Linked DNA regions of Homo sapiens. Each later gene encodes a partner of the first gene's protein in a complex. Each region holds a gene or a part of one and is shown on either strand. Other genes may lie near its edges.

The links.
Region 2: FNIP1 (region 1) and LAMTOR5 share a complex: the UniProt entries of both Homo sapiens proteins name them as parts of the lysosomal folliculin complex.
Region 3: FNIP1 (region 1) and LAMTOR1 share a complex: the UniProt entries of both Homo sapiens proteins name them as parts of the lysosomal folliculin complex.
Region 4: FNIP1 (region 1) and FLCN share a complex: the UniProt entries of both Homo sapiens proteins name them as parts of the lysosomal folliculin complex.

Annotation. Positions count from the first base shown.
Region 1 is NC_000005.10:131,793,467-131,800,971, forward strand, and holds the start of FNIP1 (folliculin-interacting protein 1), read right to left. Parts: upstream 3,552-7,505; 5' UTR 3,456-3,551; coding exon 3,364-3,455; intron 1-3,363. UniProt on the Homo sapiens protein: Binding partner of the GTPase-activating protein FLCN: involved in the cellular response to amino acid availability by regulating the non-canonical mTORC1 signaling cascade controlling the MiT/TFE factors TFEB and TFE3.
Region 2 is NC_000001.11:110,404,144-110,412,629, reverse strand, and holds the start of LAMTOR5 (ragulator complex protein LAMTOR5), read left to right. Parts: upstream 1-5,009; coding exon 5,010-5,044; intron 5,045-6,250; coding exon 6,251-6,312; intron 6,313-8,486. UniProt on the Homo sapiens protein: As part of the Ragulator complex it is involved in amino acid sensing and activation of mTORC1, a signaling complex promoting cell growth in response to growth factors, energy levels, and amino acids.
Region 3 is NC_000011.10:72,100,298-72,108,528, reverse strand, and holds the start of LAMTOR1 (ragulator complex protein LAMTOR1), read left to right. Parts: upstream 1-5,231; 5' UTR 5,232-5,304; coding exon 5,305-5,346; intron 5,347-8,231. Other genes in the region: ANAPC15 (anaphase-promoting complex subunit 15), read left to right, coding at 924-1,178; TOMT (transmembrane O-methyltransferase), read right to left, coding at 410-606, 2,319-2,577; LRTOMT (transmembrane O-methyltransferase), read right to left, coding at 410-606, 2,319-2,593, 3,517-3,565. UniProt on the Homo sapiens protein: Key component of the Ragulator complex, a multiprotein complex involved in amino acid sensing and activation of mTORC1, a signaling complex promoting cell growth in response to growth factors, energy levels, and amino acids.
Region 4 is NC_000017.11:17,233,618-17,241,090, forward strand, and holds the start of FLCN (folliculin), read right to left. Parts: upstream 3,552-7,473; 5' UTR 3,295-3,551; intron 3,067-3,294; exon of another isoform or gene 2,859-3,066; intron 1-2,858. UniProt on the Homo sapiens protein: Multi-functional protein, involved in both the cellular response to amino acid availability and in the regulation of glycolysis.

The DNA.
Region 1 (7,505 bases):
GAAAACAAATTACTGTCTCAATTCTATAAATGACTGAAAAAATACACTCCCCATAATATTTTTCAAACTCATCTCCAGCTCAAGAATCTTAGATAAGCACATAGAAATCGATATGGTAAGAGACCTTAGAGTGAAGACAAGGGAAGGGGGTATTTCCTGGCCATCTCTTCCAATGGGGTAACCATAAAAGACAATACAGAAAGGTTCCTAAAGCTTCTTTATCGGAAGTCTCTCCTATTCTAAAGTCCTGCTGTGGCTTACAATTACTGAGCTTTGTATATTGGTTACTCTAGGAACTGCCTCTTAGGGACTGAGCTACAGTTAGTTGCCAATGGCTAACTACACCCAAGCCTGATTTAACAATTTAGGCTGACTAGAACAAAACAAAACACCCAAAAAAGGATTCCAGCAATGAAAGCATGGTATACTAGAATGAAAACAAAATGTTAGTCTACTCAAAAACCTGGGTTATATAAAAAGATGCTGAATATGATCTTCGGGAAATGCAAATTAAAACCACAAGATACCACTAGAATGGCTATAATCAAAAGAATAAAAAAACGATTAAGACAGTAAATTTTGGCCAGGCATGGTGGCTCATGCCTGTAATTACAGCACTTTGGGAGGCCAAGGTGGGAGGATACTTAGGAGCCTACTCAGGAGGCTGAGGTGAGAGGATTACTAGAGCCCAGGAGGTCAAGGCTGCAATGAGCCTTGATTGTATCATGGCACTCTAGCCTGAGCAACAAGTGAGACTCCATCTAAAAAAAAAAAAAAAAAAAAAAAAAGTAAATTTCATATTTTTTTTACAATAAAAATTTTTAATTAAAAAAGAACAAAAATAACAATATCAATATTGAAGAGATTGTGAAGAACCTGTAACCTTCATGCATTGCTACTGAGAATACAAAATGGTACAACTATTTTGGAAAAGTCTGACAATTTTTTTTTAAAGTTAAACACAACATTTAGCACATGACTCTGCAACCCCACTCCTAGATTTCTATCCAAGAGAAAAGAAAATATATGTCCACATAAAGATTTATACACAAACATTAACAGCAGCATTATTCATAATAGCCCAAATCTGGGGAAAAAATATGTCCTCCAACTAGTGGCTGAATAAACAAATCATGGTATAGCCATACAATGGAATACCATTCAGTGATAAAATTGAAGGAACTGGCTGGGTGTGGTGGCTCATCCCTGTAAGCCCAGAACTTTGGGAGGCCAAGGTGAGAGGATCCCTTGAGCCCAGGAGGTTGACAGTGTATTAAGCGTGGTCACGCCACTGTACTACAGCCTGTTGACAGAGTGAGAAAAAAAGGAACTAATAAATGCAACAAACAAGACAGACACAAGACTATGACAGAAAGTATCAGTGACTGCCACGGGTGAGGAGGAGTTAGGCTACAACAGAGCATGAGGGAACTTTTTGGGTGATGGAAGTGTTCTAAAACTTCATGGGGGTGGTGGGTACACAACTGTATACGATGTATGCTTAAAATGTATTTATACTTTATTGTGTATAAATTATAGCTCAATGAAATAGTTTTTAAAAAACCCTGGGTTGATTAGATCTGTAAGTTATTAGCTATGTGACATTAACCAGAATGGTTTTTTTTCCTTCAGATATGCCTATTCTGTTTCATCAGTTTTCATTTCTCACATGCACAAGTTTTATTTTTAAAGTGAGAGATTCCATAATGTACTGCAGTTATTGGGCTTACAGATAATTCTTACTTCCACTGGCAAAAGTATATAGTTATCTGCACTGCTACTTGCTCTATCTCGTAAGATTGCTGTGAAACATCAAATAAGATAACTGATGAGAAAGTTCTTTGGTAACTGTAAAATAGTATTACGCAACTATGTAGTAGACTTTACATTTTTGAAAACCAGACGTGAAAATGTTTTTTCATATGAGTGACTTGAGAGCCTTGTAAACCTACGTACCCAAAGTCAATCTTTGTCCAGAAATAGAAAGCAGTTGTCTATTCAAATGCCACCTTTTAAATATCCTATCGGAACCTGTTTCCTATTGTCGCTTGAGTTACTAGATGGCTCAATGTAGTATTATCTAACCTGCACTTTCATTTTTCAAAGGAAAAACACTAAAGAAATGTTTAAAGAGAGACAGATGAGCATGACACATTTATTTTTCAGGGGAAAAGACAGATACGTAGAAAAACCTCTTCAATTCCATATGCATTTACTGAATTTTTCCTGATGAGACCTGCATTAGCAAGAGAGAGTGAATAATTTTAAGAATAGCAAAATTTCTTAAACCAGTGTGGCAACTTCGCCTGTTCCAAAATTTGACAGATTCTCTTTTTTTATTTTTATTTTATTTTTTTGTTTCTACTATTGTTGTACAACTGGGCTCTTTGCTATCCTACCAAGTTTAAAACGTGTGGCATTTGACATTTAGCCTAGTTATATTTGCAAGTTTCCACACTGCAATACGTATAAAGGCTGTTTGGACATAATCTCCTCAGGTGCAGTTTAACGACTAAATTTTACCTTGAATTCAGGTTTATATCAAATCTTACAATTCTGAAAAGTTACTCTGCCAGCAACAGGTACTACAATGAAAAATTAACAAAGCCTGTAACACTACAAAATGCTCTACTAACATTTTCAATTTTTAAGACTCCTTTTCAGTAACAATTCGAGGAGGAAGAATCTACAGCCAATTCCAAGGCCAGATTTCATTCAATTTGGTCTTCCTTCGGCAGTAACCCTAAACTCAAGTTTCACATTTCTCCTTCGATAACATTAAGGTCGCTCGGTCCGGTTACTGCACACCTCCAATTTTAGCGTCCAAGAAACCTGAAAGAACGGCACGTTGCCTACTCGCTCCTCCAGCCTTCTCTCAACTCAGAAGCTTGGCCAAACGTGCCGCTCTCTCCACAACGCCAACGGAGCTGGAACGCAGCGCCCGGAGGACAACTGGTCACGGGGAGGAGGGGAGAACTTCGCGGCCCGGAGTACGGCGGCTGAGGTCCAATCCAGCCCGCGCCCAACTCTACTCGGTGCCAGGAAGGCGTGTGGACCCAAAGTCTCAGGCCGCGGTGCTAGGTCCGGAGGAGCAGAGTCGCGCGTGGCTGGGGGCAGGTCGTAAACAAACCGACGGGAGGAGGGGGAAGGGGCAACGGCGAGGCGGGTGGGGTAAAATAAAAGGTAGGACCTCGCTCCAACCCTTCGGCGCTAGCCCGCAGCCGGCTCCACCCCACCGAGGACCAGATGCTGCTCTCGGCGCGGCGCTTCCGCTCGGGTCGGAACACCGAAGGCCCCAACACCCCTGGAGCCCGGAGCCCACAAGGCCATCGGCTCCGCGACCCCCGCCCCACAGCGCCCTACCTGAACCCGCAATCTGGGTCCCGGGCGTCGCGGCCGGGCGCGCCCAGCCCGGTCCTCTTGCTGAAGAGCTTCTGGAACAGCGTAGGGGCCATGCTAGCCACGGCCAGGCAGGGGTCGCTCCGCTGGGCGCTTGCTAGGCCCCTGCTCCTACAGCCGCCCCGCCACCCCCATGGGCGCCTCAGTCATATGACAGAAATTAGTCACTTCAAACGGCCACGGCGCGCGGGGCGGGGCGCGAGGCAAGGCCGGCACTCATTGGCTGGAGGGGGGCCGCATCACGTGGCGGCGCGCGGAGCAAGGGGCAAGGTGGGGGCGTGGGGCGGAGCTGCCTCCCATAGGCTCACTGGCGGGTCCCGTCACGTGGCAGGGGCGGGGCGTGAGCCGAGAGGACAGGACTGGAAGGTGGCTAGGGATGTGTAGCGGGAGAAGGGTCAGTCTCGATCTTCCCCTGTGAAGCTGTCAGCGACCATCAGAGGGTACGCCGGGGTGGCGCGGGGACGATGCCAGGAGCCTTGGAGTGCAGAAGGCTTCGACTCCCCGCACCCACAGAGTTGCGTAGGGAACCACGGGCAACCGACTCTTCCTTGTCAGCCCCTCCCTAGCTTCTGCGGCTTCACACCTCCATTCCGCGCCGGGCAGAGTCTGGCGGCTCCTGGAGCACGGAAGGCCCACAAGCGTACCCGTGGGGCCGCGGCCAAGGCTGGACTTTGAGCCCAGGACCCCAGGACCGCCCTTAGAAGGCTGCGCCGGCCCGCGAGAGGTCTGGGATCTGGACAGCGCGGGGGCTGGCTCACAGGGACTGGTGAAGGAAACTGCCGGGACCCCTGCCACAGCCATGGCTCCCCGCAAAGACGACCTCGAGCAGGCACTGCGGGCAGTTTGTACTAGCGCCTAGAACCCTGACACCGGGAATTAGTCTCTTGGAAGAGCTAGCGATTGGAGGCTCAGGAGTTAGGCTGTTTCCTTGTTAACCAACAAAATCAGGTGAAACCAACGAAGTCAGGAAGCCTAAAGACATATATGTACAGATATCTAACCCTTTACGCTAATTATTTAGATTTTTAATAAATCTATCTTAATGTTTAGGTATGAAGACGGGAGGAACTGTGGAATTTTAGTCAAGTTACAGGGAAGAAACGCTTTCTAAAAAAAGAAAAACATTGCTCACATGTGACCTCACAGTCTTATTTAACCCATGGAACCAAAATATATCAGAGTTTGTATCAAACTAATCTTATAAATTTTCAGCAACCCCATCCATTCACTCACTCCCCCTCCAGGATGAGGAAGCTCGTACAATGGGATGTAATCCTCAGAGAAATTTAGGAAATAACTTGTATATGGTTGGAAGGCTGGATAAAAATACTTTGGGCAGGCGTGGTAGCTCACGTCTGTAATCGCAACACTGCAAGGCCGAGGCAGGCAGATCGCTTTAGCTCTGTAGTTCGAAACCAGCTTGGGCAACAGTAAGACCCTGTCTCTACAAAAAAAAAAAAAAAAAAAAAATTTTAATTAGCCAGGTGTGGCCGGGCGCTGTGGCTCACGCCTGTTATCCCAGCACTTTGGGAGGCCGAGGCGAGTGGATCACCTGAGGTCACGAGTTCAAGACCAGCCTGACCAGCATGGTGAAACCCCGTCTCCAAAAAATTAGCCGGCGTGGTGGCGGCGAATGCCTGTAATCCCAACTACCTGGGAGGCTGGGACAGGAGAATTGCTTGAACCCAGGAGGCAGAGGTTGCAGTGAGCCGAGATTGTGCCATTGCACTCCAGCCCGGGCAACAAGAGCGAGACACCGTCTCAAAAACAAACAAAAATTAGCCAGGTGTGGTCACGGCGCACACCTGTGGTCCCACTCGGGTGGCTGAGGTGGGAGGGTAGCTTGAGTGTGGGAAGTCAACGCTGCAGTGAGTGCCACTTGTACTTCAGCCTGGGCAACAGAGGGGGGCCCTATCTCAAAAAACAAATACTTTTTGAGAATTTCATTTAATTAGGTATACAAATTAAATTTTATTTTCTTTAAGTGGCTACCAACTCCCACTGATTTGCAGCTAGAGTTTATGCTCTAAATAAGGGTCTGAAGATATTTAGAAAAGAAAAAGTAATAGGCAGAATTTATATCTCTTTGAGAATTTGTCAACAACCAAAATACTGAGTTTCAATGTTCCAAGACTTTTTTAAAGCACTATTTATTGATGATTAAGATAGTAACATATTCTTTCCACAATCATTTATGTTCTAGGCAGTGGGGATCCAAAGTAAAAAAGAGCTAACTTTCTAGGTGAGGAGACAGTAAATAAGTATTTAAAGTTATTGCACTATTTATTGATGATTAAGATATTAACATATTCTTTCCACAATCATTTACGTTCTAGGCAGTGGGGATCCAAAGTACAAAAGAGCTAACTTTCTAGGTGAGGAGACAGTAAATAAGTATATAAAGTTATTTCAGATAGTAACTAATGTTGTGGAGTTAGTAAGAAATAAGCAATGAAATGAGGGTGTCAGCAAAGTCTGAGGAGGTAACATTTGAGGTGCTTAGGTTGAAAATCATTCAGTTGCTCTGTGTATTACCCAAGGTCCAGAAACTACTGGGCAATACAGGATCAAAACAGCAGTACTATTTCACCTAGACATTTCAGATAATCCTCTGGCATCAAATGCTGAAAGATTTCTAACAGGGTAAAATGAGCTGTGTATATTTTTCTCACAAAACATTTGAATGTAGAATGAAAAATGAAGTTTTTGTAAACAAAAAAATAAAGTCAATGCAATTTTTAAAAAGTAAACAGAAGTGTAGATCCTATCAGTCAATTAATGGGGCAATCATTTGGGAAGTTTTGTTTTTACACTAGTTAAGTTACACTAAATGAGTACAAGTGGAAACAGGCCAAAGTCTGTCTATACGGGACCAAAGACACTAAGGACTAATGGCTGTCCATGACTGGCACAGAAAAGAGTAGTTCCAGGTCCCCTCAGAAGGAACTTTCCAAATACAATAACCTTGTGTGCTTTCGTCTTGGGAAAAAATTACTTCATGGGTAATTATAGATATTAATAGTAAGGGAAAAGAATATAACTGCTTGCATAAGAGACACTTTCAGTATTCTCTAATCATGTAATAGCTTTATTTCTGTAGTCTCATTTAGTCTTGAAAGGTACAGAGAAAAACTAGATTTACTTCCTATTATTGATCACATTTCTCCTACATTGCAGTGTAATACTAAAGTCACAGAATCAGAGAGCGCTGAAATGATACAAGTTTGTAATAAAAGAGGACAAAACTATACATAATTATTCAGATTAAAATTTAAATATTTCAATTTTAGTATCAGTGAATATTATCTTTTATTTTTCCTTTTACTTAGTACTACATCCTATCACAGAGAAGCTGAGGTGTCTTACAGGCAGCCTTTGTAAGTTTAAGGAGTCAGCAAAGAGGAAATGTGAGAAAGAAAATAATTACCTACTCATTCATGCTACGTTATATCAATGTGGAACTACTGGGTTACAAAGATTAGACATAAGGCCTACTACACTCTCACTCAAGGGTGGAAGATTTAGTCTCCTCAAAACTCCAACAGTCTATAGATTTCTGTCCACCTGCTTCAAAGATTCCCCTCCTGATAGCATAAAAGACAGGCACTCTTTGCTATAGGCATTTCCTGGTTACTACATATAGGAAAAGGTGGCAATAAAACTAAAATCTTCCTCAACCATCATGCTAATAAGTATAGTCTCAATTATGCTGAATTATCATGAAACAAATTATAATTTCATTGATGACATCTCAGAACAAGACATTCAAAATCAAGATGATCAAGTAGACCTGCCCGAAAAACATTAAATGGGCTCAAGTTACCCCACTTTTAAAAACTCCTAAACCAACTGACCATTTATTGCTATATAATAAGGAAATGGCAGTATTCTGAAGCACCAGAAAACATAAACAGTGATTTATTCAACAAACATTTCTTGAGTCCCTCCAACATCTCAGACTCTACTGTAGGCACTGGGAATATGGTACTGAACAAGAGAGTCCTTATTCTTAGAAACTTAGTTTTTTGTGGGAAGAGACAAAATAAACAAGATGTTTGCAAGGTGTGCTAGGAGCCAGGAAAGAAAGCATGGATAGCAAGCAACTG
Region 2 (8,486 bases), on another chromosome or scaffold:
GCCAGTGTGGATAGCCCTGGGGTAGCAGAGCCCTCCGTACCCATAGGAAAGCTACCCTTTCTACCAGAGCTGTGCTTCTTAAACAGACCCTCAGGAGGATTCTACTTCTGATGAGTCAACAAAAGGAGTTAGGGTCCCCTGGGCCAGCAGCAGTGAGATGGCCTACAGGGTCTGTGTTTCCCTCTCTACTTATCCCCCACTTCCCATCAGGACATGTGGGCTTGGGTATTCTCTGCTGGACCCTCCTGGCATTTTAATTTTCCAAGAGCTCATTTATGAAAGAGGGAAGAAAGAAGAGGAGAAGGTGGTTAAAGTTCAGGACCTAAATTTCTTTACCTTAGAGTAAAGGTAACCATAGAGTTCCTTTCCCAAAAGACATCAAGACTCTTCAATAAATATTTGTTGAATTTTTGTCATGCTCTGTTGCACTAGGGATGCAGAGATGAAGACACTCTTCCTGTCAATGAAAAGTAAACGTAAGGGCTGGGTGCTGTAGCTTATGCCTGTAATCCCAGCATTTCGTGAGGCCAAGGAGAGCAAATTGCAGGAGTTCGAGACCAGCCTGGCAACATGGCAAAACCCCATCTCTACAAAAAATACAAAAAATTTAGCTACACATGGTAGTGTACACCTGTAGTCCCAGCTACTCAGGAGGATGAATCACGAGCTCAGGAGGCAGAGGTTGCAGTGAGCCAAGATTGTGCCACTGCACTCCAGCCTGGGTGATAGAGTAAAACCCTGCCTCAAAAAGAAAAGAAAAAAAAAAGAATAAGAATTAAAAAGAGAAAAGAATGAACTTTTTCAAAAGTAAACATAAAAAATTACAATATAATGAAACAAATGCTCTAATACGGATGTCATGGAACTTTTCCTGTCACCCCAGAAATGGTTGCCAGCACTCAAAACTAAGAACAAAGAATTGTTAAATACCCCACAAGCTAAAGAAAGTAGAAAACAAGGGTCAGATACTTTCCCCAACCATCACTCCAGCCCCTAGCACTTGCCCAATTTATATATACTATTCCTCTCCCATTGCCTACTTGCACAGGGGCAAGACAGCAGCAGGGCAGAGAAAGCGGGGGTGGTAAGGAGTAGCCTGCTCTCTCACCTCCCATGTGGCAAGGACATGTGAGCCAGCTATCATCCTCTTCCTACTTGATTTCCCTTCAAAGGCCTTCCTTATAGCTTAAAAAGCAATCGCCAGTCTTTCGGAGAATCCTTTTTTTTTTTTGAGACAGGGTCTCATTCTGTCACCCAGGCTGGAGTGCAGTTGTGCAATCTCAGCTCACTGCAGCCTCAACCTCCCGGGCTCAAGTGATCCTCCCACCTCACACAAAGTACTTGAGACCACAGGTGCGCATCACCATGCCCAGCTAATTTTTGTGCTTTGGTAGAGACAGGGTCTCCCCACGTTGGCTAGGCTGGTCTCAAACTCCTGGGCTCAAGCCATCCGCCCACCTAGGCCTCCCAAAGTGCGGGGATTACAGGCGTAAACCACCATACCAGGCCTGAAAACTACCATGCCTGGCCTGAGAATCCTTTAATCACTGATCTAGCTTTGAGATAATTTGAGATATCCTTGGGCTACACTGGCCAATACTGTGGCCACTAGCCACAGGTGGCTGCTGAGCACTTGAAATGCGGCTGGTCTGAATTGAAATGTGCTGCTAACTGAAAAATATACCCTGGATTTTGAAGACAGTACTGGAGAAAAAATATAAAATATCTCATTAGTATTTTATCAATCACAAGTTGAAATAATATTTTGAATATATTGTTTGAATAAATAAAATGTTATTAAAATTAGTTTCATCTGTTTTACTTTTTTTTGAGACAGTCTCACACTGTAGCACAGCCTGGAGTGCTGTGGCTCAATCTCGGCTCACTGCAACCTCCAGCTCCCGAGTTCAAACGATCCTCCTGCCTCAGCCTCCTGAGTAGCTGGGACTACAGGCACGCACCATCACACCCAGCTAATTTTTGTATTTTTAGTAGAGATGGGGTTTCGCCATGTTGGCCAGGCTGGTCTCAAACTCCTGACCTCAACTGATCCACCCATCTCGGCCTCCCAAAGTGCTAGGATTACAGGCGTGAGCCACTGCACCCTGCCCTGTTTTACTTTTTTTTTTTTTTTTTTTTTTTTTTTGAGACAGAGTCTCGCTCTGTCGCCCAGGCTGGAGTGCAGTGGCGCGATCTCGGCTCACTGCAAGCTCCGCCTCCCAGGCTCACACCATTCTCCTGCCTCAGCCTCCTGAGTAGCTGGGACCACAGGCGCCCACCACCACACCCGGAGAATTTTTTGTATTTTTAGTGGAGACAGGGTTTCACCGTGTTAGCCAGGATGGTCTCAATCTCCTGACCTCGTGATCCACCCGCCTCGGCCTCCCAAAGTGCTGGGATTACAGGCGTGAGCCACCGCGCCCGGCTGTTTTACTTTTTTTAATGTGGCCACTAGACTATATTGCCCAGGCTGGACTTGAACTCCTGGGCTCAAGGGATCCTCCTGCCTCAGCCTCCTGAGTAGCTGGGATTATAGGCACGTGCCATTTCACCAGGCAGTACTTATGTTTTCTAATGCTAAGTTTTAAACTGCTTTTTCTAAAACTTATATGGCCTGTACTGTGTTACCCCTAACTTAACATGAATAATTTCTCTAGAGCAGGAGTCCAAGACCCCTGAATTATAACATTCAAACTGGAATTTTGGCTGGGTGCAATGGCTCATGCCTATAATCCCAGCACTTTGGGAGGCTGAGGTGGGCGGATCGCTTGAGGTCAGGAGTTTGAGACCAGCCTGGCCAACATGGTGAAACCCCATCTCTACTAAAAGCACAAAAATTAGCCACGTGTGGTGGTGCATGCCTGTAATCCCAGCTACTCGGGAGGCTGAGGCAGAAGAATCGCTTGAACCAGGAGGCAGAGGTTGCAGTGAGCTGAGACGGCGCCACTGCACTCCAGCCTGGGCGATAGAGCAAGACTCTGTCTCAAAAAAATAAAGAAATAAACAAACTGGAATTTCAAGGAAGCTGCAAGCTTCACTATGACAGCTGCGGAATAAAAAGGGACTCTGAATGCCAGTGCAGTGTATTGGACTTTGGTTCAATACCAAAGTCTGGTATCTTCCGATCTGGGAGCTGGGCCCCAGATTGGAAGGTAGGCTGTGAGTAAAAAGCTGGAGGTGACAGAGTTGGAAGAAACTTAGTGCAAGGAATGATCCACAGAGGGGGTGAGGCTTACCAATTTGAGTAAATTAGCACCACTTTTTCGGGAGGCAATTTGTAAGTATGTATCAAGAGTCTTAAAAAATGATCATGTCCTTTAACCCAGTCATTCCATTTCTAGTAACTTATAAGGAAATTTTAAAACTGCACAGATATTTAGCTATGAGGATATTCAACCAGCATTGTAATAGCTAAAACAAAAAACAAACAAAAGCAAAAAAAAAAAAAAAAGTCCAAGTACAGTGGCTCACCTGCAATCTCAGCGCTTTGGGAAGCCAACGAGGGAGGGTCACTTGAGACTGGGCTACACACTGAGACTCCATCTCTACAATTTTTTTTTTAATTAGCTAGGTGGGGTGGCGGGTCCCTGTAGTCCCAGCTTCTTGGGAGGCTGAGGTGGGAAGATCGCTTGAACCTAGAAGGCTGAGGCTGGACTAAGCCATGATAGTGCCACTGCACTCCAACCTTAATCCACAATTAAGATACAGCTATAAAATGGAATATTTTGCAACTACTACAAAGGATGTAAGTGAAAACTTGACATGGAAAGACATTTATTCTAAACTCTGTAAAGAAGGCCAGCTACAGAATTGTACCTCCAGTATGTATGTCAATTTTGCTTACAAAACAAACAAAACAAAAAAAACCATGCTAGGCGTGGTGACTCAGCCTGTAATCACATTTTGGGAGGCTGGAGTGGGAGGATCTGTTGAAGCAAGGAGTTTAAGACCAGCCTGGACAACACAGCGAGACCCCCATCTCTACAAAAAAACGTAAAAATTAGCCAGACATGATGGCTCGAGGCTGTGGTCCTAGCCAGTCGAGAGGCTGAGAGGTGAGGATAGCTTGAACCCAGGACGTCCGGGTTGCAATGAGCTATAATCGTTCTACTGCACTACAGCCTGGGTAACAGAGCAAGACCCTGTCCCCCAAAAAATTTATTTTAAAAAGGCAAACGAAAAAACATTAAAAGTATACATTTACAAAGACAACTATCTGAAAGGATATTCTCCAAGAAGTTAAAAGTCGTCTTTGGACAGTGGGGCCATAGATGTTTTCCTATTTTTACCAGCTTTATAATTAATTTTTAAAAGTTATTTTCAAGTAGTCCTACCCAGTCTTCCTTACGAGTTAGGACTCAAATGCCACTCTCTTCCCCTAAACTGTCCTGAGTCCCCTCACCATAATAAGCACCAATGTCTTCGTTAAAATCCCGACACTGCCAACACTCAGCTAGGGGGTTGAACCTTGCTCCATCTCGTCCTTTAGTCTCTGTGTGCGTCTTTCCCCCTACAAGCCTACTGACCCCCTCCAAGAGGTCCCGTGTCTTCCCCGTACTTGCCCCACAGGCTAGATCAGACCCTGTCTGACCCCTGGGTTATTGTAAAACTTAAGATCTGTCCCCTAGGTCTCGGAGTCGGTTGAACTAGGGTCCAAAGGTTAAAAAACACTGACACAAAATGCCAGGCCACGAACTGAAGCACTGAGGCCCGGCTGCAGACCTCTCCCGAGAGGGGAATAATCCGTGCCGGCCGGTTCCGCCATGGAGCCAGGTGCAGGTCACCTCGACGGTCACCGCGCGGGGAGCCCAAGCCTTCGTCAGGCTCTGTGCGACGGAAGCGCAGTGATGTTTTCCAGTAAAGAACGCGGACGTTGCACCGTGATCAATTTTGTCCCTTTGGAGGCGCCGTTACGGTCCACGCCCCGCTCGCGTCAAGTGACTGAGGCCTGTGGTGGAGAAGGACGTGCCGTGCCGCTGGGTTCTGAGCCGGAGTGGTCGGTGGGTGGGATGGAGGCGACCTTGGAGCAGCACTTGGAAGACACGTGAGTAGTGCGCGCCTCTTCGGCCTGTCCTGAGGTCGCGGCGGAGGAACTTGAGCGGAACGAAAGGCGCGAGCTGCGAGTACCGGCCAGGGCGTCTCGGGGACGTCGCGCGACCCCCGGGACACGGGATGAGGGGGCTAAACTCTACCCAAGGCCGCAGGGCGGGGCGGGTGACCCGGAATTAAAATCCTGCCGGGCACCGCACATTCCCTCTTGAGCGAGTCTCCCGGGCCCAGGCCACGGGCCAAAACTGCCTATCTCGTTGTTGAAATCGTCTTTACGGTCAGGGTGGTTCTGCGGAAGTTTTAGAAAACGGGTTGACTTTTGGGAAGATTGTGCCAGTTGTGCAGTGTCGAGCCCTGCAGTGTAAACAAACACGTATCTCCTGTGTGTAACCTATCAGTTACTTGGTGCTTAAGTAGATAAAAATCATTCTTTAAATTTTTCGAACAAGCAGTATCTATGTAAAATTCAAAACTGGAAAAGTGTAAAGGGTACAGAGAGACACCTGCCTCCCACCGATGTCCCTCAGCTTCCACTTACCCTCCAGGAGGTAACTTGAGTTTTTCAACAGTTGTTTTAAATGAGTTAGTACTAAAACATGCGTTTTTAACAAGAGTGAAAACATCCTAGATGTTTTTCACGCAGTGTTTGTGGCCCTCCAGAACTCAGCAGTACTTAGCACATTTTTTTCTCTCATCAGAGAGAAACTGGTTTATTTCAATTAATTAACTAGAACTTAAATTTTTTGTGTTCTTTTTTTGAGACGGAATTTCGCTCGTCTTCCAGGCTGGAGTGCAATGGCGTGATCTCGGCTCACTGCAACCTCCGCCTCCCAGGTTCAAGCGATTCTCTTGCCTCAGCCTCCCGAGTAGCTGGGATTACAGTCATGCGCCACCACGCCTGGCTAATTTTGTATTTTTAGTAGAGACGGGGTTTCTCCATGTTGGTCAGGCTGGTCTTGAACTCCCGACCTCAGGTGATCCGCCCACCTGGGCCTCCCAAAGTGCTGGGATTACAGGCGTGAGCAACCGCGCCCGGCCCTAGAACTTAATTTTTTTCTTAGGGTGTGACAATGAAAAAAGATTGAGAAATATTGATTTAAAGCACTTAATGCCTGGTACATAGAACACCTGTATGTTTGTACTTATTTAAATCCTTTTTCTCCCATTATGTACTTCAACTCTCTTGTGTTCCTGGAATTAGAATGAAGAATCCCTCCATTGTTGGAGTCCTGTGCACAGATTCACAAGGACTTAATCTGGGTTGTAAGTATCTCTCATACCAACTATTTGATGAATTGCATAGCATCTGATGTTGACTTGGAGCCTAGCGTGCTATTATTTTCTAGCTTTTATTTCCTGTTACCTTGCCAGGTCTTTCTGAGTTTGAGAGTAGAGATTATCTCCAAATAACAGTATCAGAAAATTGAAACTTTTCAGTTGGTATTTATGAAGGAAGATGTTCCTTGCAGTCCTATAACAATAAATAGTTGTCTCTACTAAAAATAATATTTGAATCATTTTAAATTGAGTCTAGAAAGGACTTCAGATAATAACAGCTGTTAACCATTTATTGAATGTATGCCATATGCTGAGACTGCTAGGCTCTAAATACATTATCTTTAATTTTCACAACAACCCGGCAAGGTGGGTGGTGTACAATTTTGAAGCTCAACTACACTAAACAAGAAGTGAATAGGCAGTAAAATGGGATTTCAGTGTTGGACATACCTGGTCTCAATCCCTTGCTCTTTCATTTGTTAGTAGTGTGAACGTGGACCAAAAAACTACCTTTTAGGCCCTCATTTTCTTCACTGGGTTGTTATTTGATAATGGTAATAATCATAGAATTATATTTATTGAGCTGTTATGTGCCAAGCACCATTGTAAGTGCTTTACATATACTCTTTTATTCCTCATAACAACCCAGTGAGGTAGAAAAAGAAATTGAGGGACCAGGTGCAGTGTCTCACGCCTGTAATCCCAGCACTTTGGGAGACCAAGGTGGGCAGATCACTTGAGCCCAGGAGTTCAAGACCAGCCTGTGCAACACAGTGAGACCCCCCATCTCTATTTTTACAATAAACATATATATATGTTTTTAAAATTTAAAAAAAGAGGCCGGATGCGGTGGCTCACACCTGTGATCCCAGCACTTTGGGAGGCGGAGGCGGGTGGATCACCTGAGGTCAGGAGTTCGAGACTAGCCTGGCCAACATGGTGAAACCACATCTCTACTAAAAATGCAAAAAAAAATTAGCCAGGCATGGTAGCAGGTGCTAGTAATCCCAGCTACTCGGGAGGCTGAGGCAGGAGAATCGCTTGAACCTGGGAGGCAGAGGTTGCAGTAAGCCGAGATTGCACCATTGCACTCCAGCCTGGATGACAAGAGCGAGACTCTGTCTCAAAAAATAAAAAAAGAAACTGAGACACAGAGGTTAAATAACTTGCCTGAGGTCATGCAGCTAGTAAGTCGTTAAGCTAGGATTTTTGTCTGGCCCTGAGGCCTCTTAATCACTTTTTTTTTTTTTTTTTTGAGACGAAATCTTGCTCTGTCGCCCAGGCTAGAGTGCAGTGGCACGATCTTGGCTCACTGCAACCTCCATTTCCCAGGTTCAGGCAATTCTCCTGCCTCAGCCTCCTGAGTAGCTGGGATTACAGGCGCCTGCCACCACGCCCAGATAATTTTTGTATTTTTAGTAGATACAGGGTTTCACTATGTTGGCCAGGCTGGTCTCGAACTCCTTATCTCAGGTGATCCACCCACCTCCGCCTCCCAAAGTGCGGGATTACAGGAATGAGCCACTACACCCGGCCTAATCACGATATTTTAAGGTTATATAATATGTATAAAATGCTTACATAGAACTGAGACATAATACTTAATAAATGGTAGCAATTACACATGAGGAAATAAGTTTGGAAAGGTAAATAAGTAAAGCATTCAGTTAATTAGTGACAACTAGTAAACCCAAGACTTGTTGCTCCTAATGCAGGAATGTTTAAAGCTCTGAATTTTTGCTGGAAGGGTAACTGAAAGAGGTAATCGGTGTAACTCAGTTATGTTTAACATGCAGATCAGTCATTTGGGAGAAAAAGGGTAAATTTTTGGAAGCATTTGCTAGGCTTACTAATGGAAAGACTGAAATTCAGGTATGGAAATCTAAAACTAAATGAGTTCCTTCAAGAAACCTTCAAGGCTCAAACGTCGGCATCGGATCTGGTCAAAATGTTTTGTATAGTAATAGTACATCCAAATGCTCTGCCATAGTGGCATGTCTATTACCTGATTTGGTTTCAGGTACAGTTAACTTTGTGTTGCCTTTATATACAGAAATATATTGTAAAGTACACTTAGTAATTAATTTTCGTACCTAGAATTTATAGGTACTTTTGTACCCGAGATTTAGTTACTATAATATATACAGACTAATACAGAC
Region 3 (8,231 bases), on another chromosome or scaffold:
TACTTCATGCCAGGTCCTGGCTTAGCTTCCCATGAGTGTTCTCACATTTCCTCTGACCTCAGAACCTAAGAAGTCAGGATCAGTATTGTGATTTCCATTCTGAAGAAGCTAAGGTTCAGAGGATGCATGCTTTGCTCAAGGTCACGTAGCTAACAAGAGGCAGAGTAAGAGCTGGACCCAAATTTGCTGGGTTCCAGAGACCTTCCTCTTAGCTGTTTCTTTCGTCATCCGGCAGAAAATAATGTGCAGATGACTTGGGACAGGAGGGCAGGAGCTCACACACCATCCAGCATCACAGTCCCCAGAGTGGAGGTGCTTCCTTCTCCTTAGATGGGAGTCCTTCACAAGGGATGTCTGGGGGCAAGGCCTGGGGTGACAAAAATCTGGGTTGGGGAGATGGGAGGCTGACCATGTGCTCATCAAAGCCGGCCAGGCGGATGAGTTTTTCAGCCACTGCTGCCGTGCGTGGGTCCCGCTCCACAGTAAGAAGGCGACCCCCAGGGGGCAGGGCTCGGGCAATAAGCAGGGTAGAGTATCCACAGTAGGTTCCCAATTCCAGCACACAAGCAGGGGCCTTCTCCTCCACCAGCCGCATCAGGATCTGACCTATGAGGGGAGATGGCTGTTGCAGAAGACATGGGAGATGGATGCAGGGCCCCTGATAAAAGATATCTCAAATGCCTACCTGCCTCACTGCAGCTCCCAACCAGCCGGGGTCTCATCTGTCTCTTGTACCATAGCCCCAGCTGCCCTCCTGGTCCCCGTCTCCTACAGTGTAGTCTTCACACCAGCCCTGGAATCTTTCCAACAAATCTGACCTTATTACTCCTTGGCTCCTGTGAGCTGAAGGCCTTTGGGATTGAACTTGGGATTCTCAGCCTGGCATTCAGGACCTTGGACCTGATCCTATCCTACCTTTCCAGGTTCATCTCTCAGTACTTCCCACCTGTGGCCTGTATCACAGCCATCCCAAACAACTGTGCCCAGAATCCATCAAGCTGTCTCATTCCTTCATGCCACATGTGTATATGTGGCTGGCTTTGCCCTTCCCACCCCCATCGCCATCTGCCTGGCCAACTCAGAACTTCCAGATTCAGTTCAAATGTTGCTCTTTCTCCATGAAGTCCCAGGCAGAAACAACCACCCTATCTTTCAGATTTATGAAAGGTCTCTGTTAGAATTTGTAGTTTCATTCCCCTTTTATTGCTCATCAAATGTATTTCTGATCTTGGAATTGGATGAACTTTTATTTATTTATTTTTGAGACCAAGTCTTGCTGTGTTGCCCAGGCTGGAGTGCAGTAGCATGATCACGGCTCACTGCAGCCTTGACCACCCAGGCTCAGGCAATCCTCCCACCTCAGCATTTCCAGTAGCTGGAACCACAGTTACTCACCACCACACCCGGCTAATTTTTAAATTTTTTGTAGAAACGGGGGTCTTGCTTTGTTACCCAGGCTAGTCTCGAACTCCTGGGCTCAAGTGATCCTCCTGCTTTGGCCTCCCAAAGTGCTGGGATTACAGGCATGAGCCACCATGCCCAGCCAGTGAATTTCTTTTCTTTTCTTTTTCTTTTTTTTTTTTTTTTTGAGACAGGTTCTTGCTCTGTCACCCATGCTGGAGTGCAGTGGCACAATCACAGCTCACTGCAGCCTCAGCCTCCTGGGCTCAAGCAATCCTCCCACCTCAGCCTCCCAAGTAGCTGGGACCACAGGCATGTGCCACCATGCCTGGGTAATTTTTGTATTTTTTGTAGAGATGGGTTTTTGCCATGTTGCCCAAGCCGGTCTCAAACTCCTGAGCTCAAGCAATCTGCCCACCTCGGCCTCTCAAAGTGCTGGGATTACAGGCACCAGCCACCACACAGCCGAATTTCTTAAATAAGACCCTAAAAGCACTTATGCTGGGATTGAGATAAATCCAGGCAGACAGCTACCCTAAATGGTATGTGGAAGCCTCCATGGTGGAGAGGAAAGATGTGGAGACAGATAATTACAAAGCTATGGGTTATCTGCTGAGATGGTTATTCCACTGTGTATTATGGTTCCTTTGAGGCCAGCATTTGTGGCTCATTCATCTCTGTGGCCTCTACCCCTCTCCCTGGCACCTAGCACATTCCTAATACAAAAGAGGTGGCAATAAATGTTTGCTGAATAAATGACTTAGTCCAAGCTCCTCATTTCCAGATGAGAAAAAAAAGAGGCCCTAAAAGAGGATCAAGAACCTGCCCAATTCATCCAGTTAAGCAGCAACAGATCCCAAATATTCCTTCACTGTCTTGGGGGTACTTCTTGGAGCAGAAGGCTAGGGAACACTGACCTTTGACAGGCCCCATGTGGCTCAAGTACTCGCAGCGGCTGCTCCAGTGGTCCAGGGTGGTGAGGATGTGACCAGGGTCACCGGGCAGGGCATGGGTGAGCACGTAGCTGAAGGCCCGCTCCTCGATCCGCAGCCCTGACAGGCAGTCTCGGAGGCTTCGCAGCAAGACCGTGCGCACCAGCAATCGGAAGTAGTGCCGGTACCGCACCAGCAATGTTACCACCAGTGGCAGGAAGGCCAATGCAATGGCAGGGGACATGGTCCCTACCTGGGCCCTGGGGTGGAGGGAGGTAGGGAGGGAATCCCATACCCACAATTTGCCTATTTGTGTAGCTTTTGCCAGTAGCAATTATTATCCTTATATTTCACAAACCACGGCTCAGAAAGGCTAAGTCTTTTGTCCAGAGTCACAGAGCAGAACTGGGATTTGAATCCAGGTTAGTGTGATTCCAAGCCTGTGTACTTTCAAGGACTCTATACTGTCTACTTTCAGCACCCAGCCCCAAACCACCTCTTCCCGGTCCCAACCCCTGGTCCCATCTTCACATTGTTCCCCTGACTTGTTTCTCTTTATCCTTGAAGTCACCCCTTCTTCAGGACCCCTTTCACTAATTCACCTCTGGGATATCTTCCCCCACCCCTACCCTCTGCCTGCCTGGTCTCCTCTGACCACTGCTGTGTAGCAAAAGAGCATAGATTTGCAGTCAAAAACACCTTCACTATCACTGTGCCCTGCCTCAGTAAAATGCAATCAAAATACCCCATAGGGTGTTAGAGTGAGATGTCCTCTTTCCCACCCCAGGACTCTCCCTCTGCCTGCTCTTCCCTGAGGATGGGAGGAGTCTTTGATTCTTTAATAATTCTCCAGCCCCATCTCCTCTCCGCTGTATTCCCCTCTTCTCCTGTGCTGTCTCAGAATTCCCTTCACAAATGTGTACATACACATAACACACAGCACACATTTTCCCTCTACTCAGCTCTTCTCTCCAGGGACCTATGGGGAATGGGCCTCTCCTCCCATGTCCTGGACCATTCTCCTCCTCATCCAGATCTGACCTCCTTGCCGGCCTTCTTGCAAGGCCCCTGGTGATGGCGGGGAGTAAAAATGAAAGAGTGTATGGATGGGTGTGAATAGGTGAGTGATGCGGTGGGCTTGAACTGGTGAGCTTGGGAACCCACAATCCAGGGCCCTGCTTACCTGGGCTGGAGGACCAGAGCACAGGACAGGTCGGGGAGTCCAGGGCCTGCTGCGGGGGATAACCCTGAGGTAGGAGGCTGGAATGGCTTTCAATTATTCATGCTGAGGCTGCTGCTGTCACCTGAGACCTGCAGTTCAAGTTACCAGCCCCAGGGACGAGCTTGAGCTGCCTCCTACCCTTCAGGAACCTCAAAAGATTTACAGAACCTCAGGGTCTTGATTTGAGGGGTTATAAGAGGTATGAGATCTGGTGACTTCTCCAATACTTTGGATCAGAAGATGGGGCATGGGGTGAGCCAAGGTGATGGGGTGACTGTAACATGCTCATTGATATGCAAGTTTTCTGTAAGCAAGGCCATGCCTTGGGCTACAGGGAAGAGTCAGAACCTGTCACTGTGCTCCAGGAACTCCCAAGTTTGGTAGGTGAGACTGACCCAGGAACAGAGAATACAATATAGTGTGATCACTATTGGATGTTCCATGACTACAGGGACTTTGGCTGTTTTGTGAACTGCTGCATATCCAGATATAACAATGTGTGGCACATAGTAGACGCTCAGCAAATATTTGTTGATTCAATAAATGCATGAATTAACACTGGATGAGGATTAAGCATAGGGAGCTGGGCATGTCCAGAGAATGGAGTCAGAGAAGGTAATCAGGAGGACATTGTACTGAGTCTCGAAGACAGTAAAGACAGTAGGCAGACCAGGCTGCATGTACAAAGTCCAGTAGATCAATCAGGAAACTACATTATTTCTCTATGTCCAGTGAAACACATTGCTGACCCCTCCACCCCTCACCCCAGAACATGCAGTGGGAGAGGTGTCAGGCTCTTGTTATGTCAGACGGGTAATGTGCCAAAACAAGATTTGAGGGTGGCACATTTGATACATGCTGGTGAACACCCAATCACACGCTCATGAACAACAAATGGATCACTATACAATCTTGGACGGACTTGGACCTGTGTTCAGGGCCCAAGGGAAGACATGGAGCGGGGGTTAGGAAAAGAGAACTGATGGTCAGCTTTGTGCGTTCGATTACAATGGGTGCTGTTAAAAAAGGCAGAATTAAAGATAAAAGCCTGAAAGCAGAGAGGTCAGTGAGGTGGCTTCTATCTCCTCTACCAGGATTTATCTCCGCTGCGCGTCAGCATGTGAAGGTAGTATAAGGTCCCTTCTTCCTGTAAGTCGCAGATCCCCAGCCCAGGTGGAGAATACACCCTCTGTGTATTCACCCCCAGCCCAGCTGGGCGATACACCCTCTGTGTTCCCCGACTAGGTACTGGTCATCTGGATCATCTGTGTGTGTGCACCCAGACCGTACGATCTGGAGCATCAGGCCTGGATCCCAGTCGCCCCTCGCATGGCATTTAGAAGAGTATATCACAAGGGCATACGAGGGCATTTGGTACGAGTTCGCTCAATGGCCCAGAAAAGTGGCCTAGTGGCCACGAGAACGCATAACACAATTCACGATGGCCACTACTGCCAGTTTAGAGACTGGAAAGATGAAGTCATGTGATCCGCCCCGCCCTTTCCCCGCATCACGTGCTTGCGTGTACGGTTACGCCTTCCCATTGGTTGACAACGATCACGCGCTAGCGGGCGGGACCGGAAGCCGGGGTATTGACTGAGGCGGCCAAGCGGCTCCGGGACAGGGGGTACGGGGGGTGGGGGCGGGTGGTTGCCTGCGGGAGGCCGCCGCGGGTCATGTGACCGGAAGGGCTCCTCACGGACGCCGTCCCTCCTCGGCGCGGCCTGAGCGCCCGGCCCGACCCCGGCCATGGGGTGCTGCTACAGCAGCGAGAACGAGGACTCGGACCAGGTGCGGCCGCGGCAGGCGGGGCTCGGGAATGAGGGCTAAGACACTGGGGCATGGGGCCCAGAAAGAAACCTGCGGAGGACGGGCAGCCGGACTGCAGGGCTCACTGAATACGGAGGCCTGGAGGGGACAGATTACAGAGGAGACGCCAAGCCGGGCTCCTACCCCTGTTAAAGCCCCAGATTTCTACACAGTCCCCGCCTCGGGGTGTGCAGGCAGCCGCCTGTCCGGCTCGCTCCCACCACTTCCGTTTGCTCCTACCTTCAAAACTTTTCAGATTCAAGGATCCTCAGTCTAGGTCCCCGGGAAACACTCCCTTCCCCAGCTTCCTGTGTCTTCTGTGTATTAGTGGGCTTTGCGAATCCATTTTAGGGGTGGGTAAGCTGAGGCCCTGAGTTAGTCTGTCCTGAGATGAATCAGGAATTCGTGTATCGTCTTAGTCCCTGGGGTTGCAGAAGGAAGGTCGCTGCTAGTCTAGGGCCAGGGGACGACTCTGGAAGTTGGTGGCCTTTGAATTGGCCAATGAAGGATTTAATCGATACAGTGAGGACATCGGGACATGTGGGAAATTGTCTGGGAAGCAACAAAGAGGATTTAGCTTTGGCTAGATTGTGGGAAAAGAGAAATGGAGCGGGAAGTTCATTTGGTTCTGAGTTTGGCTTGCCTCAGTGCAGTCTGCCTGGGGCCTGAGGGTTCCTTTAGCTGGAGACATGCCTATTCTGAGAATTTGGCTGTAGATCTGATACCTTTGGAGAAAGGGTTAGGCTGGGGAGACCTGTACAGTTTTAAATTCTCCCTCTTCCTCTTAGTGCATTCTCACTTCTCCCCACACTCTAATCCCTGCCCTGCCTGGCCTGACATTCAAGGATGAAGTCTCAAGTTGCTGTCTACTCTCCTTTTTTGATCGTCTCTAAGCCCGGATTCTACATTTGAACATATAGTAGACCTGAGAGAGTAGAAAGGTTTCAGGTAGCTCACGGTCTAATGGGGAAGATGGTCACAAAAATAGATTATATCACTGGTACTTGGGAAGTAGTTCGTTCTTCAGTGAACGTATTTTGGATTAAGGGCTTAAGCCTAGGAAAATGTCGTTTGTATGGGAAGCAAGGGTGGCTTCTGGTTCTCAATTCTCCATACACCCAATGAACACATATTTCCTTTGCCCTGTGTTAGGCATGTGTTGTGCCTAATACCTCTCACTTCACTTCCACCTTTTTGAGAAAGAGACAACAATAACCCTGCCTACTGGGAGAGCTGTAGCCTAGTGGGAAATTGTCCCTTAAAGCATAATATGGACTCTTGCAGGGAATGAGTCAAGAAGGATTAATGCCGTATGAGAAAGGATACAAGCTTCTACTTGGAAGGGAGAGCTGGGCCTGCTGCTCTCCTGAATCTCTACCTTCTCCTTGGGGGGCTCTCATTTCTGTTCCTAACACCCAGAGAAGGTGCTTAATCACTGCTGGGTGATTTGAGGCCTCATGTAGCAAGGGCCATAACCATCCACCATCCCACAGTCCCTCTTTGAGTTCTTGGGCAGGCCCCTCTCCGACTCTCATCTCTGTCTCTTTATCATAATAAAAAATATACAACACGTTACAGTTTACAAAGGGCCTTCACAGTTATCTAATTTGACTCTTGCCAGACATCCGTCATATTAGTGTGGGTTATGTCTATTGAAAGGTGAGGAAGAAGTTCAGAGAAGCTAAGTGATTTGGCCAAGCTGAGAAGTGCTAGTGCCCAGGTGTTCTGACGCTAGGCCATGTACTTTATCCATGGGGCCAAGCTGTCTCAGCCATGCCCCTAGACCAGGTGGCCAGTCACGGGCAGGCTGCTATGTCTGTGCTAAGGTAGACAGTGAAACCCTGCCTCTTGGGTTACACTAATGCAGAGACAAACCTTGATGTGACAAACCTAACCCATGCTCCACTCGCACTTTGGGAGTGGGGTGATGTTTGTCTGCTCTGAAGTAGGTAGCATGGCCTCTTCTTTAAGTCTGGGTTTCAAGAAAATAACCTTGTTGTTCACTTGATCTTAGCTGAAGGCTGAGAAGTGATCAGCCAACCTTCTTCTTGAAGAACCCCTGATAGGGAAGAGACTACCCTGTCCTGCAGGAAGATCTGTCTGAAGTGGAGCTGGGAGGACAGACACATAGGAAGCTAACTTGGGCCTCATTATGGAGCCAGCTTTCCTTAGAAATACATAGTTTTATCTTTGGCAAACATTTTGTCTTTTTAGCTCTTTAATACTGAGCCTATGTATTTAGGGAGGAAGGGTGTCTGGGAGTTTATAGAGGTGATGGGGCAAAGCCCACAGCTTCTGTCTCTTGCTGTTGGGAACTGGATCAAATTGCCTGAGGACACTTGGGCAACCTAGCCTTGAGAAAGAAGAGTAAGGTGAAAAGGCTGGGCCTCCCTAAGCAGGGCAGGAGGAAGTAGCCCTCTACAAGGAGAGTTGTGGAGTTGTGGGCAGGGGAGCTGCGGCCTGCAGCAGGAAAGACTGAGGAACTGAGATAGGCCTGGAGGGGAGCATTGAGGAGTCTGGCACTGAAGGTTGGTGAGTCAGCATTAGCCAGGATGTCCCCCTGGGCCCATCCTTGGCTTTGTTCAGGGCACTCTTGCTCTTTATGGGTTGGATAGATACCCAGCAGGTCTGTTTTTCTCATTTACTGCTGATACAGCAAGCAAGGATTTGCAGCTGATGGTCTCAAGGCAGGGTCAAATCCAGAAATATTACAGTAGATAGAACAGGGGACTGAAAGAGGACAAGGAGGAAGACCAAACCAATGAGGAAGCTTGGTTTGGTCTTACATTAGTTCAGGGGTTGTGATTATCAGCACAGGCCAGCAGGAACAGGGCTGCTGAAAATTTACATGGGCTACTCAGGTGGTT
Region 4 (7,473 bases), on another chromosome or scaffold:
AAAATTAGCCGGGCATGCCTCTAGTCCAAGTTACTTGGGGGACTAAGTTGGGAGGTCACTTCAGCCTGGGAGGTCAAGGCTGCAAGTTCCCATCTTTCCTTTTTTTTTTTTTTTTTTTTTTTTGAGACCAAGTTTCACTCTTGTCACCCAGGCTGGAGTGCAATGGCGTGATCTCAGCTCACTGCAACCTCTGCCTCCCAGGTTTAAGTGATTCTCCTGCCTCAGCCTCCTGAGTAGCTGGGATTACAGGTGTCTGCCACCACACCTGGCTAATTTTTGTATTTTAGTAGAGACAGAGTTTCACCATGTTGGCCAGGCTGGTCTCGAACTCCCGACCTCAGGTGATCCACCTACCTCAGCCTCCCTAAGTGCTAGGATTACAGGCATGAGCCACTGCATCCAGCCAAGTCCCCATCTTTCTTACTCTTGGTTATAAGGGGGTGCTCTGGCAGCATCTACATCACACCAACTTACTTTTCAGGCCATAGGCCTGGCAGTTTCCTTCTCAAGCAGGAGAGGGAAACCAGAGGCAACGCTGACAAGCCACTTCCCAGCACCCAGAGCCAACATGGGCTACACTGTTTTGTTTTTTTTTGGTTTGTTTTTTTTTTTGCGGAAGGGTCTCATTCTGTTGCCCAGGCTGGAGTGCAGTGCAGCAATCTCGGATCACTGCCACCTCCGCCTCCCAGGTTCAAGCAATTCTCCTGCCTCAGCTTCCCGAGTAGCTGGAATTATGGCCGTGCGCCACCAGGACCAGCCAACTTTTGTATTTTTAGTAGAGATGGGGTTTCGCCATGTTAGCCAGGCTGGTCTTGAACTCCTGACCTCAGGTGATTCTCCCGCCTCCTCGGCCTCCCAAAGTGCTGGGATTACAGGCATAAGCCACCATGTCTGGCCAAAACATGGGCTACTCTTATTCGTTTTTCCTTTTAATGAAAAGCACTCGCTGGGTGCAGTGGCTTAAGCCTGTAATCCCAGCACTTTGGGAGGCCAAGGAGGGCAGATCACCTAAGGTCAGGAGTTTGTGACCAGCCAGGCTAACATGGTGAAACCCTGTCTCTACTAAAAATAGAAAAATTGCCGGGTGTGGTGGCTCATGCTTGTAATCCCAGCACTTTGGGAGGCCGAGGCAGGCGGACCACGAGGTCAGGAGTTCGAGACCAGCCTGGCCAACATATTGAAACCCCATCTCTACTAAAAATACAAAAATTAGGCTGGGTGCGGTGGCTCACGCCTGTAATCCCAGCACTTTGGGAGGCCGAGGTGGGCAGATCACGAGGTCAGGAGATTGAGACCATCCTGGCTAACACAGTGAAACCCCGTCTCTACTAAAAAATACAAAAAATTAGCTGGGCATGGTGGCGGGGGCCTGTAGCCCCAGCTACTGGGGAGGCCGAGGGAGGAGAATGGCGTGAACCCAGGAGGCACAGCTTGCAGTGAGCTGATCGCACCACTGCACTCCAGCCTGGGCCACAGAGCAAGACTCCATTTCAAAAAAAAAAAAAAAAAAAAAGCCAGGCATGGTGGTGGTGCATGCCTGTAATCCCAGCTACTGGGGAATCTGAGGCAGGAGAATTGCTTGAACCTGGGAGACGGAGGTTGCAGTGAGCTGAGATCGCACCATTGCACTCCAGCCTGGGCAATAAGAGTAAAACTCCATTTCAAAAAATACAAAATACGAAAATTAGCCAGGCCTGGTGGCACGTGCCTGTAGTGCCAGCTACTCAGGAGGCTGAGGCAGGAGAATCGTTTGAGCCTGGAAGCGGAGGTGGCAGTGAGCCGAGATCGCATCACTGCACTCCAGCCTGGGCGACAGAATGAGATTCTGTCTCCAAAAAAGAAAGAAAGAAAGAAAGAAAGCAAAAGCACTTGTCAGACGAGAGCTCTGACTCTGACTCCATGGATCATGTGCACCAGAGGCCCAGGCAGCCCCTGAAAGAGAGGGAGGTGCCCTACAGAGCACTTAGCTTTGCGGTCACCGGAGCCTGCCCTCACCAGCCAGGTGACACCAAGTGTTACTAGACCTCTCTGAATACCACCCAAAAGCTGAGAAACAGAGGCCTCTCAGAATTCGCATTACACATGGAATCAGAATTCTGGGCAGCGTGAGGTCATTCTTCACTCACTGTTCAATTCCAATCTCTACCAGGTGTTTGCTGAAGAAAACAAACTGGTTTGAGTGTGTCTCACGAGTCTGTTTCCAACAAGCTTTCCAGAACCCACATAGGAAGCCGAAATGCCCTGGCTGACAGTCTCTTCATCAACATATCCAAAGACAGTATTCAAATTCCCTGATGTGGTAGAGTGTCTGTTCATGTCCCCCTCCCACAATGGCTGAGTCCCAGACCTGGACAGTGACCTCACCACCACCCGTGGTGCGCCCTGGCCCTATTTCAACCCTACTTCCTATGGTGTTCTCATAGCACCGTGGAGAATTAAAGAGGCCACTAAGTAAGGGCACTCTAAATAAACAAAGCACTATAACGGATCTTAACCAGCAGTGGACACACAGCTTCTATAACTAGTCTCCCACTGGGGAGCCTCATTAAGTTAGCAGCTGGGATCCCAACAAGCCCAGGGTGAAAAGTTCTGCAGGGGATGACTGCCAGTTCAGATCCACTCTCACTGTGGCTCTATTTCCACCGTTTCCCTGGATTTCCATTCACAGAGCTCCCTGACATAGGACACTAGAAGGGCAAACGCAGTGTCACCTGCCACTATTACTCAATTACTTGATGACCACGGTGATAATCTGGCACTAAACTGGCTGTGGCCAAAGGCTAGAGAGCCAGAACCTACTTCCAGCAAGCTCCTCCTTGCCCTGTGTCCCCACTTGAAGAGACTGCTAGTGACCACACCTTGGACTTCAATCCACAAGCCAATCCATTCTTTCCAGGAGACAAGGACGCGACTGACAGTACTCTCAACTGGAGAGAAGCGCGGTCTTCCACCCTCCCTGGAGGACACGGTGCTACCCTATTAGCGCATCAGAGGACCCTCCTGAACGCCAAACTGGGAGAAGAGGATGACACACACCCTCTCCTCCAAACAGAGCGAAGACAAAACCTGGGAGAAGGGAAGGCAAACAGTCCCGTTTCATGGCAACATCAAATGAGATCACAGTCCTCATCCCCATAGACTTGGTTAATGGGCGTGCCCCCAACCTATCTTCAAATCTCAGGGTCTCGGCGACGCCCTGGACTCTGGCCCTAAACCCTCCCCCATTACTCGTCCACCTGGGACCAACGAAAACTCGGACATGCCCCTCCGCCAACCCCTCAGACCCCCGCCTACCTGCTCCCCAAATCGAGGCCCGCGGGACACCTGGACTCGGCAGCCGGGGTCCCGCTCTGGGTCCCAGCCCCGCCCCTGACTGCGCTGGGTAGGTGGTCGCTGCGGGACCCGGACCGGCGGAATCACACCCAGAGCCCCCAAGCCCACGGCAGGGATGTCACCCGGGGTGGCGAGGCTCTCAAGCCCGGGTTCAGGCTCTCAGGGGAGCTGGCAGAACCAGGAGCGACCACACTCACTCGCGGTCCCGCAGCCCCGCCGACACCCAGGCGCGTGACTCCCTGAGCCGTACCACCACCCAACACTGCGGTGGGGGTGCGGGAGCCGTCCGAGCGCGTCCTGCACCGCGAGGAGAGCCGGGCCTCCCTAGCTCTCGCAAGCCCAGGAACACAGTCCGAGTCCTACAACTCCGAGGTCTGACTGGGAAGCAGGGGCCGCTGCCCGACAATTACCCTTTTCCACCGCCCCTATTCCGGTGCCCCCCTCTGGGAAGTTCCGAATGGTTCAGACCGCACCAGCTGGGGATGCTGGGGGAAACCATTTCATTAAGCGCGGGAGTATGCTGAAACTTAAAAATCATTTTAAAAAGAGATTTGAGGGTAAATATAGCCAACCTAAGGCTTCCTGTCCACATAAAAGAGAAAAATAAAGAAAAAACGTTATAAGAGGTTGGCAGGCTTTTTTTTTTTGCTTCACCAATGGTTTTTATTAAATTGCTGATGGAACCCGTCCTCTCCCTACATTGAGAGTATGGAAGGTGCGGGAGACGGCCGTCACGTGACGCGGAGAAGGCGCGGCGCCCGTGGGAGGTTGGTTGCAGAACTCGGAACCGCTGTGCGCGCGCATGTGTGGGATTCGGTCTTCCTCCCTCAGTGGGTCTTTTTTAAAAATGTGAAAATCAGTTTTTGAATAATATTCTTTTTTTGAGACAGAGTTTCGCTTTCGCTCTTGTTGCCCAGGCTGGAGTCCAGTGGCGCGACCTCGCCTTACTGCAACCTCCGCTTCCCGGGTTCAAGCGATTCTCCTGCCTCAGCCTCCCGAGTAGCTGGGGACTACAGGCGTCCGCCACCACGCCTGGCTAATTTTTTGTATTTTTGCAGAGACGGGTTTTCACCCTTTTGGCCAGGCTGGTCTTGAACTCCTAACCTCAGGTGATCCACCAGCCTCGGCCTCCCAAAGTGCTGGGATTACAGGCGTGAGCCACCGCGCCCGGCCTGAATAATATTTTTTAAAACTAGAGCGCCCATTACTAAATTTAGCTACTTAGAAGTTAATTGTAAAGCCATTAGTTTGTGATGTAGTGTGGGTCCTTCCAGTGAAGACCGGAGAGAGATGGGAATCAGAGCCTGACCCGCCTGTGCGCGCTGCCCCCTGAGGTGTGGCTGCCCCCTGAGGTGTGGCCGCCCCGGAGCCTTCCGCCGCGGCCGAGGCTATGGTTGCCGCAGAGTCTCCAGAATGTGCTCACCAGGAATAGAATAGAAAAGTGGGTGGTTGTGTTTTTGAAATCAGAAGTCACTTATTTTTTTCTCTTTAAATTTCCATGTTCTGGTCGGGCGCGGTGGCTCACGCCTATAATATCCCAACACTTTGGGAGGCCGAGGTGGGCGGATTACGAGGTAAAGAGATGGAGACCATCCTGGCCAACAGGTGAAACCCCCTCTCTACTAAGAATACAAAAAAAATTAGCTGGGCGTGGTGGCACACGCCTGTAGTCCCAGCTACTCTGGTGGCTGAGGCAGGAGAATTGCTTAAACCCGGGAGGCAGAGGTTGCAGTGAGCTGAGATCGTGCCACTGCACTCCAGCCTGGCACAGAGCGAGACTCCATCTAAAAAAAAAAAAAAAAATCCATGGTCTGTTGAAAACGGGACACGAGAAAAGAACGAAAGTGCAGCTTGTGTTTTCTGCCGTCTTATAGTGGCTTGGTAAAGATTAAGGAATATGGGGTGGCGTTACGAGGTTAGGCATTGCCTTTATGTGTTTAATTATTCTTATCAAGCGAATTCCTCTTGCTGTTGGACAGCGCAAACTTAATTTCTGAGGAGGTAGTAAGTTACAGGGTGATTTTATTTTATTTTATTTTAGAGACGGAGTCTTGCTATGTCTCCCAGGCTGGAGTGCAGTGGCGCGATCTCGGCTCACTGCTACCTCCACCTCCCGGGTTCAAGTTCTTGAAACTAATGTTTGTTAATGAGATTTTTAAGTCAAGAACAAGGTTTTTTTCACCTTGTAACTTTAATTCCAGGAATTACCTTTTTCAGTTTGTTAGTGGAGTTCACCACCTTGCTCAGATTATCCTTATTTCCATGGTGATAGGCTAATGGCGGAAGGTTATTCAACTAGTGTATTTTCAGTAAAAGTCAATGTGCATTTACCACACCTGGGCTCAATTTAGGCCATTAACATCTTTCCCAACACCACTGGCTTCAGCCACCTACCTCTTTTGGAGGTACTTTCTTAAATAAACCTATAAATCTTTAAAAAAAAAATTAACAACTGCCAAATCTTTGCCTCAGTGAATTGTACCAAAGGTTATTTAAATTGGGCTCTCATGGGGTATAAAAACTTTCAAGGTCATGCAACAAAAGGGACATCTTAGAAGTCGGAAAATGTGCCCATTCTCATGGGAAAGATAATTGAAACTCAGCAGTAATGTTCAGAAAGCACAGATACCAATAATGTTCAACAATTCACAACCAAATGAAATGCAATGCTAATCTCAAAGCTTCTATCCCATAATGGAAATTGTATGAAATGATTCCAGAAGCTCTGGATATGTTACTGCCTGGCATGCATACAATCCAGAATGTGTTTTTTCCACCACTGAAACAGGCTCAATCAGAATTAAGATTTTTTTCCACCACTGAAATAGGCTCAATCAGAATTAAGGTTTTTTGATGCTTTTCTGCCTTCTTACTACTGCTAAACCAAGAGGCTTCATTATAGCTGAGTATCCAAACTGATCAATCACTTCCAAGGCATCAGTTGCCAGGACCATAGAGCCAAGTGGCAGGGAAAAGTCACATCTTATTCAGAAATTTGTTTTAGAGTTTTTTATATGTACCCTTAGCCACAGGGGCTCTGATGTAGCTGTAGGATACAGCTGGGCTTTATCTTTCAGTCAAACCACATGTCAATGACTCTTAGTTTCCAGTTTCAGGAAGAAGGGGTGTATTTCATTTGTAAGCATTTCAATTTAATATTTTTAATCACATCTCATATTTTCAAGTTACTATAATTGATTCCCTGTTATAAAAATAATGATCTAAGTTTTTGTTTCTTCCAGCAACTGAGAAAACATTCCGTTTTTAGATGTTTTGAACAGTTTAGGAGTCTGGCCAGCTGCTGAAAGGCAGCAAGCAATGAGTAACATTTCAGAAGGTGAGATAAATGCACAATTTCTTTTTTTTTTTTTTTTGAGACGGAGTCTCACTCTGTCGCTAGGTTGGAGTACAGTGGCGTGATCTTCGCTCACTGCAACCTCCCCCTCCCGGGTTCAAGCACTTCTCCTGCCTCAGCCTCCCGAGTAACTGGGACTACAGGCGCATGCCACCAGGCTCAGCTAATTTTTGTATTTTTAGTAGAGACGGGTTTCACCATGTTGGTCAGGCTGGTCTCGAACTGCTGACCTTGTGATCTGCCCTCCCAAAGTGCTGGGATAACAGGCGTGAGCCACTGCACCCAGCCCATGCACAATTTCTTTCTTTCTCTTTTTTTTTTTTTTTTTCTTTTTTGAGACGGAGTCTTGCTCTGTTGCCCAGGCTGGAGTGCAGTGGCGCCATGTCCGCTCACTGAAAGCTCTGCCCCCAGGGTTCATGCCATTCTCCTGCCTCAGTCTCCTGAGTAGCTGGGACTACAGGCGTCTGCCACCAGGCCCAGCTAATTTTTTGTATCTTTAGTAGAGACGGGGTTTCACTGTGTTAGCCAGGATGCTCTCGATCTGCCTGCCTCGGCCTCCCAAAGTGCTGGGATTACAGGCGTGAGCCACTGCGCCCAGCCTAGCCCATGCACAGTTTCTAAGTTCAGGTTTTAGGTAATTAGACAATCAACTCTGCACATAAGGCATCCAGTCAGTTGCGAGGTATGAGTTATTAGTGGTTCAATAAAGGCCATTAGGATTAATTTAATATTTCTTACCATAGCAATTTCTGTAAGCTTTTAAAAATTAACCTCTCTCCACTAAT